Linked DNA regions of Homo sapiens: region 1 is linked to region 2. A link means that fine-mapping ties the variant in region 2 to the expression of a gene that starts in the linked region. Tissue or cell type: whole blood. Region 2 holds a variant in brackets; the other region holds the start of a gene. All regions are shown on one strand. Distances are between the middles of the regions.

Evidence for each region. PIP is the estimated chance that this variant, and not a neighbour inherited with it, causes the effect.
Region 1: ABTB2 starts here. The variant in region 2 is fine-mapped to the expression of ABTB2 in whole blood (TOPMed, PIP 0.91).

The regions. Positions count from the first base shown.
Region 1 is chr11:34,355,139-34,360,265 of GRCh38, forward strand. ABTB2 (ankyrin repeat and BTB domain containing 2) reads right to left here and starts at 2,872. Exons shown (of 17, transcript NM_145804.3): 1 at 1,563-2,872. The coding sequence starts at 2,445. RefSeq lists an enhancer at 1,798-1,907 and a silencer at 2,858-3,057.
Region 2 is chr11:34,263,696-34,268,695 of GRCh38, forward strand. The region is part of intron 1 of ABTB2 (ankyrin repeat and BTB domain containing 2); the gene reads right to left. Among named protein-coding and RNA genes, the nearest start is that of ABTB2, 92 kb to the right of the region's middle. The variant G/A (reference allele first, on the strand shown) is at 2,465.

The sequences.
Region 1 (5,127 bases), 92 kb after region 2:
TAATGTCAAAGTAAGCCATGCTTGGTACAGAGTGTCTTCAAAATGGGCCTAACATGTCAACTGTTCTCGAAAACTGGGCTAATCAAAAAACAAAGCATAAGATCTGAGAGCTATAGTCCAGTAAGAAAAACAAACAAACAAACAACAACAACAAACCAGAAAAACAAAGCTGTTTCTTCTCCACCAGCATCTAGAACCTTAAAGGGGCCTACCTGGATTCAAACTGGATTCAAATTCCAGTTTTGCCATTTAACATCTATGTAATGTTGGGCAGATTATTTAACTGCTGGGTACCTTGGTTTCCTTATCTGTAAAATGGGCATCATACTATGCAGTAAGTACCTACCTAATAGGCTTGCTAGGAGTACTTGAGTTAAATACAAAGTGCTGAGAATAATGACGACACATTAAGGGTTATTTTGCATTTCAGCTATTATGATTATGTTAAACCATGTTTTGACTTCTTTTATCCCTTTCCAGTCCCCACCTGACCTCTTCCACTGCCTGCTTATTTGCCACTGAAAGCTGCCCCCCAAATGGCCTTCCAATCAGATCGTAAGGCTGTTTAACCATAATACCATTCTGAACAGTTTATGGTGCTGACTTCTCAAACTGAAGTCTTGTAGGTAGTTTGCAGTTGAATGCAATGTCACACCCCCTAACATTGTCAGGGAAAAGGTCATGTGCTTTGTTTCCATCCTTTGCACCAAATCCATGCTATCTTCAGGGAAGTGCAACCACCCAATGGTTCCTTTCCCAGACTTGACCCCATGCGGTTACCTATCTCTTCCCCTTGATGGGCCACCACTCTTTTCAGGAAAGAACATTTAATACAATGCAAGGTTTTAACCAATGGCTCACTTGGTTGGTGACAGCTTGGAAAAATCAGGTCTCAGGAGACAATCTGTGGTTACTTTTCTGGGAAGGGGAGTCGGGGTCCCCAGGTTTCATCATTCCTGGGCACATATAGGTAAGAGCGAACCACTACCCCTCCATCCCCCAAGAGAGCGCCTGACAGCATCCTTCAGCCCAGCAAAGCACAAGGCGCAGCACCAGATCTTGGGCTTCCCACTTCCCTCCGCCCATCTTACTTATCCAAGGTTCAGGTCTTTAAGTTGGGACCCTTTGGTTGCTGCTATTGAGCTGGGGAAAACTAGGGGGCAGAATCAGTCAATCTAACCAGCTGTTGGGGAAAGACAGCAGCTAGAGACCTAGTCAATCACGGTAAAGAGCCACGGGGCAGTAAGTTTCATTTCAAGAGAGGTTCAGGAATGGCTTGGTCAAGAGATTCAATCTCACCCAATCAATGAACAGCCCGCAGATAGTAACAATGCCACGCAGAACAGGATGGAGATCATTCACAAGTTTACCCTCCAAAAGTCAGACACCCTTAGAACAATCTCTGGCAAGTGCCATGTAATGAACCCTATCCTCAGACCAAACGTTTTCTCCCAAAGAACTGGCACAGCCACCAGCTTTGTCTCAGGAAATTCACTCCCCCAGTAGCCCAGGGCGGGATTTCTTGCCTACCCAGTCTGCCAGTCCGAGGCCCGCGCGCTTACCATTGGCGTTCTTGCCGCAGATGAGATGCTCATAGGGCTGCAAGACGCCCCAGAGCTCGGCGTCGTTGTTGATGACCATCTCCAGGGCCTCAGCAGACACCTCCCCGCCTCCGGCCCCTCCGCCATCAGGGCTGTGGCTGGCCATCACCCTGGCCCGGATCTCCTCCACCAGGTTCTCCATGCAGGCGGTGAGGGAGATGGCTGCGTACTCGTGGATGCGCACGGAGATTCGGGTGTCCACCATCCAGCGGAAAAAGCGACCCACTGAGAAGGTGAGGCCGCAGCGCGCGGACTTGCCCCGGCGCAGCCCGTCGCCGGCGCTCATGCTGTACAGGGACAGCGCCTTGACGGCTGCCAGCGCGCAGCTCTCGGCCAGCGCCCAGCTGTGCACCAGGCGCACGGCGCTCTGCACCTCAAAGCGGGTGCACTTGGCGTGCAGCACGCTCAGGCGCTGCGCCTCGCGGGCCACGCGGATCAGTGCCCTGCGGAGCAGCCCGGCCAGGCGCCTCACCGCCTCGGCGGAGAACTGGGGCAGCCGCCGGCCGCCAGCGCCTTTGCGGAGCACCCGGGCCACGTCTCCTTCGGTCCAGGGGAACTCCTCCAGCTCGGGGAGCCGCGGACAGCGCGAGAAGAGGTCGGCCACTTCGGGGTCCTCGGGCAGCACCGTGTTCACCGTGTCCCAGCTGTTGTGGCGGCTGTTCATGGAGCCGGAGTAGCACCACCAGGCCGCCCCGCGGTGCTGCTGCGCCGAAGAGTTGAGCGCCTGCGAGTTGGACTTGGAGGACGAGAGGCTGAGCGAGCGGCACGAGTCCCCGGCCCCATACCCGGAGTCCAAGGTCAAGTCCTCCAGCGTCTTCAGAGTCGAGCTGTACGTCCCGGCCATGGGGAGCCTGCCGAGGGCGGCGTCGCCGAGCGAGGGGCACTCACAACTCCATGCCCTCTTTCCCAAGTGGGCAGAAACAAGCTCTAGGCCCTCCGGGCCACCCTCCTTCCTCTCTGCGTCGCGGGGCTCGGCGGCCGCATTGCCTGCCCGGAGGCCGCGGGAAGGTGGCCGAGATCCGTGGCCAGCAGGAGCCCCACGCTCCCGGCGTCCCGACTCGCAGCTGCCACTGGAAAGAACCCCGTCGCTACCCCCCGGCACTCCCCCTTGTCCACCTCTAATTCCCACAAGCAGAGAGTCAGTCCTCCACAGAGAAGGAATCCCGGGAGAACAGGGCGGCGGCGGCAGAAGGAGGAGGCGGCGGCGCAGGGCGCAGGGCGCAGCGCGAGTCCGGGACCAGCCGGCGAGAAAGCGCTCTGCAAACTTCTGCGCTGCGCCGGCCGGCAGCACAGCTGGGTACCCGGCTGCGTCCGACATGCAAATAACCCCGGGCGGCTTACCAATCACCGGCCGCGATGGGCGGGGCTGCACCAATGATCTCCGAGGGGGCGGTCACTATGCAGATTTCACTCTGCCTCGGGTTAAACCCCGCGGCGAAGGAGGCGGGGCTGGAGGCCGAGGGTCGGGCACGCGGCTGGGATGGGGGTGGGGATGGGGGGGGATGGGGGGGATGGGGGGGTGGGGGAAGGGCGAGCCAGCCAACTGGGAGGTGGAGGTGGAGACCGGAAAGCAGCGGTCGAAACGATAGCTCCGGAGCTCACGATTTAAAGAAAAATGCAAAGGAAAAGCTACAGGGCGCTGCCACCTTCCCGCCACCCAGGCTTTGGGCGTTCGCTGCTCGCTTTCGAGCCCTCCGCAGCCAGGCGTCCTGGGGTTGGGGCCAGGAGAATGGGGAGGGCCCCATCCAGGCGCTCCACCTCTCCTCCACCTTCCGCCAGGCCCCTCCCGCAATCCGAGATGAAACGCTGGCTGTGTTTGGAGGGAGGAGGGAGTCCCTGCCTCTCTTTCCAAGTCCGTCTGGTTCCTTTGCGCTGCCGTCTAGGCTCCAATAAGGACAGAATTTCTTAACCTGGTATCTGATCAATGGACGGGCCCCAGGAAGCCTGTGAGTGCCTCCGCCCATTTGTGGTTTCACCTGCAGTTTTCTGAGTGCCACTATGGGGAAGGGGCACCAACTTTTGTCAGATTCTCAAGAGGATCCGTGACTTCCCTGTTACCTCTGTGTGACGATACCACTTGCTGTCAGGTGGGTCCTTTTTGTCCGAGATAGACAGTGTTCTTACAGGAAGAATGAGAAGAAGGTGGCAGAGCAGTCCCTCGCCCTGGGCTGAGCTCGGAACACCTAGCTGGATGCAGGTGTTCGCCTCCTAACGCGTGCCGGTGGGCGAGCCGTATGCCCCCGCGGGACCCAGTTCCTCCGGGGTACAATGAGTGGCTGACCTCCAGGCAGCGCCAGTGCCAACCTGCCTCCGGGCGGGTGTCCCAAACGGTCCGCCAGAGCGCTGTTGGTTCAGCAGTCCCATGCCCGGTGCAGGCATGTCCCGCCGCTGCCCTGTGGCTACTCACACGCACGTGCGCAAACGGACCTGTGCCCCCTCCAGTGGAACCGCAGGCTCAAGGCGGGGATTGTGCATTCGCTCTCCCCAAGTCAGCCTCCCCCACTCCTGAATGGCTCCTTTGTGTTGCATTTTACACAGTTCTGACCTTGGGCCGTGAGTTGGATATGAACTAGAAATGTCTGGTTTGTCTCTTTCCTTCTTAAATTAATGGCCTTTACCCCCGGTGAAACTGCTTTTTATTTGGCAGTTTCGCTTAATTTTGCCTTTCCGCGGGTCTTTATTTATGCAACATCGCCGCCCGATGGTTAGAATTGGGAACAGAGTCAAAGATGGAAGTACTGTAATACCAAAGACGCAAGTCAGCAGAGATCAAACTAACAAAGGAGAATGCAGTCACACTTTACAGACGTGAGATTAGAAATTAAAGTAGGCAATGAGGTCCAACTTGTCAAAAATACAAAAGTAAATTTTATGCAATTTAAAACTTTATTGGGGAAATATAATATTAAAGGCAATGTCGCCCTCTAATGGATATATTCAAAGGAAATGAATTTCAGAAAGGTTTCCCTGTCCCCCCTTTTCTTCGTTGTGCGCACCCATCAAACCTAAAGAGAATTACTTAACTGGAAATTTACAACGGGGAACTTACTGAATGAAAGGTTATTGGAGGAATCATCTGGAGTGGGAAAAAGAGCCTATGGGATTTATATTAATATATTCAAATTACTTGATGACTTAAAGTGTAGATAATCAAACATGCCTCCAACTGAATCTGAGAATCCTGTGAATGTTGACCTGCAACATGAAGATATATTATGCAAAATTCAGCCATGGGAAATGCTTCTGAACAAACAACTGAGTTTCTTTAATAAATAAGTTTCAAGGAAAGAAAGAGATGGAGAGAAGACCTACACATTTAAAGAGACTTGAAAGACATAATAACCAATTACAAGGTGTGGAACTTATGTGTATTTTGAATTTGTTTTAAAAAGCCAGTAAACATTTGACATTATGAAACCATTAGGAACACTGCCTCGATGTTTGCTCTTAAAGAATAACTGTTTTTTTTTTTTTGATGTGGTAATGGTAGTGTGGTTATATTTATCAAATGTTCTTATCTTTTAGA
Region 2 (5,000 bases):
TTGTAGGCACCCTCTGGGGACAGAGCTCAATTCTAGGCACAGTAGGGAAACAAGGATGAATGGGCTGACCTACCCCCAGGAGCCCTATCTCCTAGCCCACAAAGTGACACACGACACACATCAGGCATGCGCAAGACACTGTCCTCAGGCCCGACCCCAGTCCCCCACTGGTATCTGCCATGGAGGTTGCAATTTGTGGCACGGGAGGGAGAACATAAACCCATCTGCTAACAAGGCTGGTGTGTGTGAGTACTGCAGGCCCAGACGGTTCTCCTTAACATGCTGACGTCTTTATGGAGTCTGACGTTTGGCTGGCTTTGCTCTGTGAGATCAGTGGTCTTCCAGGGTAAGTTTCCCAATGTTTTCTCTAAGGGAAGTAACACAGGCCTTCTTACTAGGCTTCTCCAGCAGGAGAAAAAGGGCGAGAGTTTTAGGGCCATCAGGAGAGTCTCCAAACACATCTGATCTTCTAGAAGCAGCTTGGAGGGAAGCCCTGAATAGGGAGTATAGTGAGCAGTCTCGAGGCCGAGAGTTCAAAGCAGGGTTTCCCTAGCTCTCTCGGCCTCAGTTTCTTCCTCTGTGAGATGGGCTCTTCAATTCACACCATCCCTAGGATTCAATGGCAGCACATCAGGCACATGGCGATGTGTCTCTGTGCTGTGGACAGGAAGAACGGTCAGAGGTCTGGATACAGCCAGTGTTTCTGCCATAACACAGAGGAAGCAAGAGCAGACCAATGCCTTTGGAAATGTTGCTTCATGGCCCAGATCCATGGGAATTTGCCCAGCTACTCGAGGGAGACCTTTCAAACTTGCTCAGAAAATCTGATTTTCTTTGACTTTTTGCTGCCAGCAATTTAGCTGAGTTGGGTGGTTACTTTGTCTACCTTTTTCTTTCAGTTTTCTCCCAAGCTGATCAAAGAAGCCCAAACGGAGACTCAAAGCCAATATAATAGTCAACTACAATGCTCTCCCTGTTCTGGGACCAGTGGTGGGTGGCATGGACTGGCCACACTTCAATCCCTCCTGGGACATTAAACTGTTCGAAGCGTGTCCCACAGCTAGTCCAGGGTGAATGCCACATTTCTGCTGGCCCGAGCCTGTAATGCCTGCTGGCCCTGGCCAGACCCCTCCTCATCCCGACCCCACTTCCTCATCCTCGGAACAGGGGCTTGGCTTCATTCTCCTCTAAAACTTTGAGCTCAAAGATTTCACAATATCTCTCCTATTCAATGTCCTTGGTCACCAAAATGAGGGATCTGAATCAGCATGGAGGACAGGGAAAGGGGAGATGTGCATTGCAGAACCATTTCTTTCACTATCAACTCAGGATTTTACCAAGTCCTCTCACTTCCTCGTGACTCAGTCGCTTCATTTGAAAAAAGCAAAGGAAAGGGCAATCTGGTCTATCCTTCCTAAGGAAGATGCAGGGATACAAGGAAAAATAGAACCGAAGCAACAAGTTCCAGAGGCAGGTTGAGTCCTTGAAGCCTGAGCATATAAGACAACTCACAAACACCCAGGCCCTTTCACCGGCCTAGCTGGGGGAGAGGATGGGTGGAGAAAGGCCCACCAGCATTGGTGCAATGTCACTGAAGCAGCTACCCTCAATGGGGTGAGTACCTTGCGGACACCATGGCAGTTCTCAGCCCAAGAGCTGATGCTCTTAAAACCCATCAGAATTGGCTGGGCGTGGTGGCTCATGCCTGTAATCCCAGCACTTTGGGAGGCCAAGGTGGGCAAATCACCTGAGGCTGGGAGTTTCAGACCAGTCTGATCAACATGGAGAAACCTCATCTCTACTAAAAATACAAAATTAGCCAGGCGTGGCGGTACATGCCTGTAATCCCAGCTACTTGGGAGGCTGAGACGAGAATCGCTTGAACCCGGGAGGTGGAGGTTGCGGTGAGCCGAGATCATGCCATTGCACTCCAGCCTGGGCAACAAGAGCAAAACTCTGTCTCAAGAAAAAAAAAAAAAAAAAAAAAAAAAAGCCGGGCACGGTGGCTCATGCCTGTAAACCCAACAATTTAGGAGGCCGAGGTGGGTGGATCATCTGAGGTCAGGAGTTCGAGACCAGCCTGGCCAACATGGTGAAACCCTGTCTCTGCTAAAAATACAAAAATTAGCTGGGCATGGTGGCAGGTGCCTGTAACCCCAGCTACTCGGGAGGCTGAGGCAGGAGAATCGCTTGAACCCTGGAGGCAGAGGTTGCAGTGAGCCAAGATCACGCCACTGCATTCCAGCCTGGGAGAAAAGAGCAAAACTCCATCTCAAAAAACAGAATAAAACACCATCAGAAACTCCAAGCAGATCTGCCTGAGTTGGGAGGAAAGAATGATTGAGGGGATCCAGTTCCATCTCTACCACGAATTCATTTTTGTTATTTATTTATCTACTTATTTAGAGACAGGGTCTCACTCTGTCACCCAGGCTGGAGTGCAGTGGTGCGATCATAGCTCATC[G/A]TAACCTCAAACTCCTGCACTCAAGCAATCCTTCCACCTCAGCCTCTCAAGTAGCTGGGACTCCAGGCACATGCCACCATGCCTAGCAAATTGTTACATTTTTTTCGGAAGTATGGGGTCTCACTATATTGCCCAGTCTGGCCTTGAACTCCTGGGCTCAAGCAATCTTCCTGCCTCAGCCTCCCGAAGTGCTGGGATTACAGGCATAAGCCACTGCACCTGGCCTCTACTTATATGACTCTAAAGAAGTCACATCCCTGGCCTGGGCCTTAGTTTCCTCATCCGTGAGCAGAGCTGGCCGATCAGACCAATCCCTGCCAGCCCTGACACTATGCACTCCTCCAGCAAGCAGGAAAACAGTAGTGTGTCTTGTTATTTCTGAGCAAAGGCCTTAATTGTTCTCTACAGCATGAACTCCTCTATCTAAAAACCACAACATCTCCTCTCCTCTCCCTCCCCTGCCACCCCCTTCCTCCGAGATCCACAAGACTGTTACAGAACATTCATTTATTTTTCTTCGGTGCTTGGGCTGAAAACTCTGATGACTAAGCCATTGAATTTTAATACGCTACTGTGCTCCTTGGAGGGTTTCTTCATTTCCCAGATCCCCCTCCCCCACCCCCTGTGCCCTCTGTAGACATGTGGTAGTCGTTAGGAACAGTTTGATGAAGTTTAGGTTTTCAGAGTAGAGGAGAGATGGGGGCCAGTGGGTGGGAGGGGAGGGAGAGGCGGGGGAGGTATGATAAATGGACACAACAGTCCAGAGGCCACTCAGAAAATAAACATAAAGCTCCTTTTGAGTGAGCCCACTAAAAACAAATTCCCCAAAAGCTTTTTCCTTTTTGTGGGGTGGTAGGGGAGGGAGGGGCGGGGCGGGGAGGAAGTGCTGGTGGAGGTAGGAGAGGAAAATTCTCTCAATGTAAATGGACTCTGTTCAGAGAAAGAAACAATTCTCTTTATTGGCAGCAGCAGACGTGCACGTCGGATGCTGCCAGCCATGTGTCACGACGGCCAAGTACTCTGTAGCTGAGGCCAGGCATTCAAATTCTGGGTGCTCGAGAGGCGGCAGCCCTCAGAAGAGCAAGCCAATGCTGGTGGAATTCCATGGAGAAACCTGGGTCACCACGGCAGACAGGGACAGACTCAACTGGCCAGGAACACCCCACTGGGGCTCAGTCTTGCTGACTTTCTGAAGGTCCCTGGCATTCTCTTTCCTGGACCCCAACCCTGGCCTCTTCCCCATCCTGACGGCATCACTCCCTGCCCCCATCCCACATTTCCATCCCCGTAGTTGAGAAACCCTAAACCTGGGCCCTGAATACATGTCTGCATGTTTGAAAATACTTGTAACACAGAGAAAAGGCAATATTTGAAACAAAAAAAATCCTAGACTTTGAATGGTAAGATTTCACTTGCAACCTGAGTTTCTTCTCCAGTGGGTGAGTTGAAGGTTTGAAAAGGAATCACCCTAGTGGGGGAAAGTGCATCATCTCCAGTTTTTGGTGTGGATTTCGTTTATGTTTGTTACACAAGGACTTGGCCAACCAGGTGCTATCTGAGAAGGAAGTATCAGTGTTCTTATGCTTTCCAGGAGGACATTGGAGACTTCCCTTATTAAATTGCCTTGCACACGGGGGTTTTTTGGGGTACCTCCCCAAGGATCTCTTAAGCACATTCTTCAGATACACTGTAAATGCTAAGAAAATGAGAGTTCACTCCTCTTCAATTTTTATTATAAATAATGCACAAATGTATGTAAAACATGCTCCCTATTTTAAGATTTCTTTTTTAGACAGGGTCTGGCTCTGTTGCCCAGGCTGGAGTGCAGTGGCTTGATCTCGGCTCACTACAACCTCTGCTTCCCGGGCTGAAGTGATTCTCCAGCCTCAGCCTCCTGAGTAGCTGGGACTATAGGCGCCAGCCACCATGCTCGGCTAACTTTTTAATTTTTTTTGGAGAAACAGGTTTTCTCCATGTTGCCCAGGCTGGTCTTGAACTCTTGGGCTCAAAGTGATCCACCTGTCTTGGGTTCTCTTGGATTATCAAAGTGTTGGGATTACAGGCTTGAGCCACTGTGTCTGGCCTGATGTTTTTCTTGTACATATTTAAGAAGTCAAGTAAATAAGTTCAGATGCTCACAGTAGAAAAATAACTACCTCAGAGCTCCTGGAATGAGGAACACGAAGCAGAAGATGCCATCAGTCTGAGAACCCACTCTCTCCTCTTAGTGGATGCTAGGGATGGGGACAGGACGGCTGACATTTCCCAGATCATCCACTGCAGCAGCGTGGAATCAGAGGGCCTGGGTTTGATTCCTGCTCTGCCACTAGCCAAAACCTCAGGCAGTCATTGGAACTTGCCGTGCCTTTACTGCCTTATTTGTAGAACAGGGATAATGACAGGTACTGGAAGGGTATTGGAATGCTGCACCGGCAGGGTGGGCCAGCCACTGCGTGAGTTTCCTGGGGCTTCTGTAACAAAGTACCATGAACTGGGAGGCTTTAAACAGCAGAACTTTATTCTGCTACACTCCTGG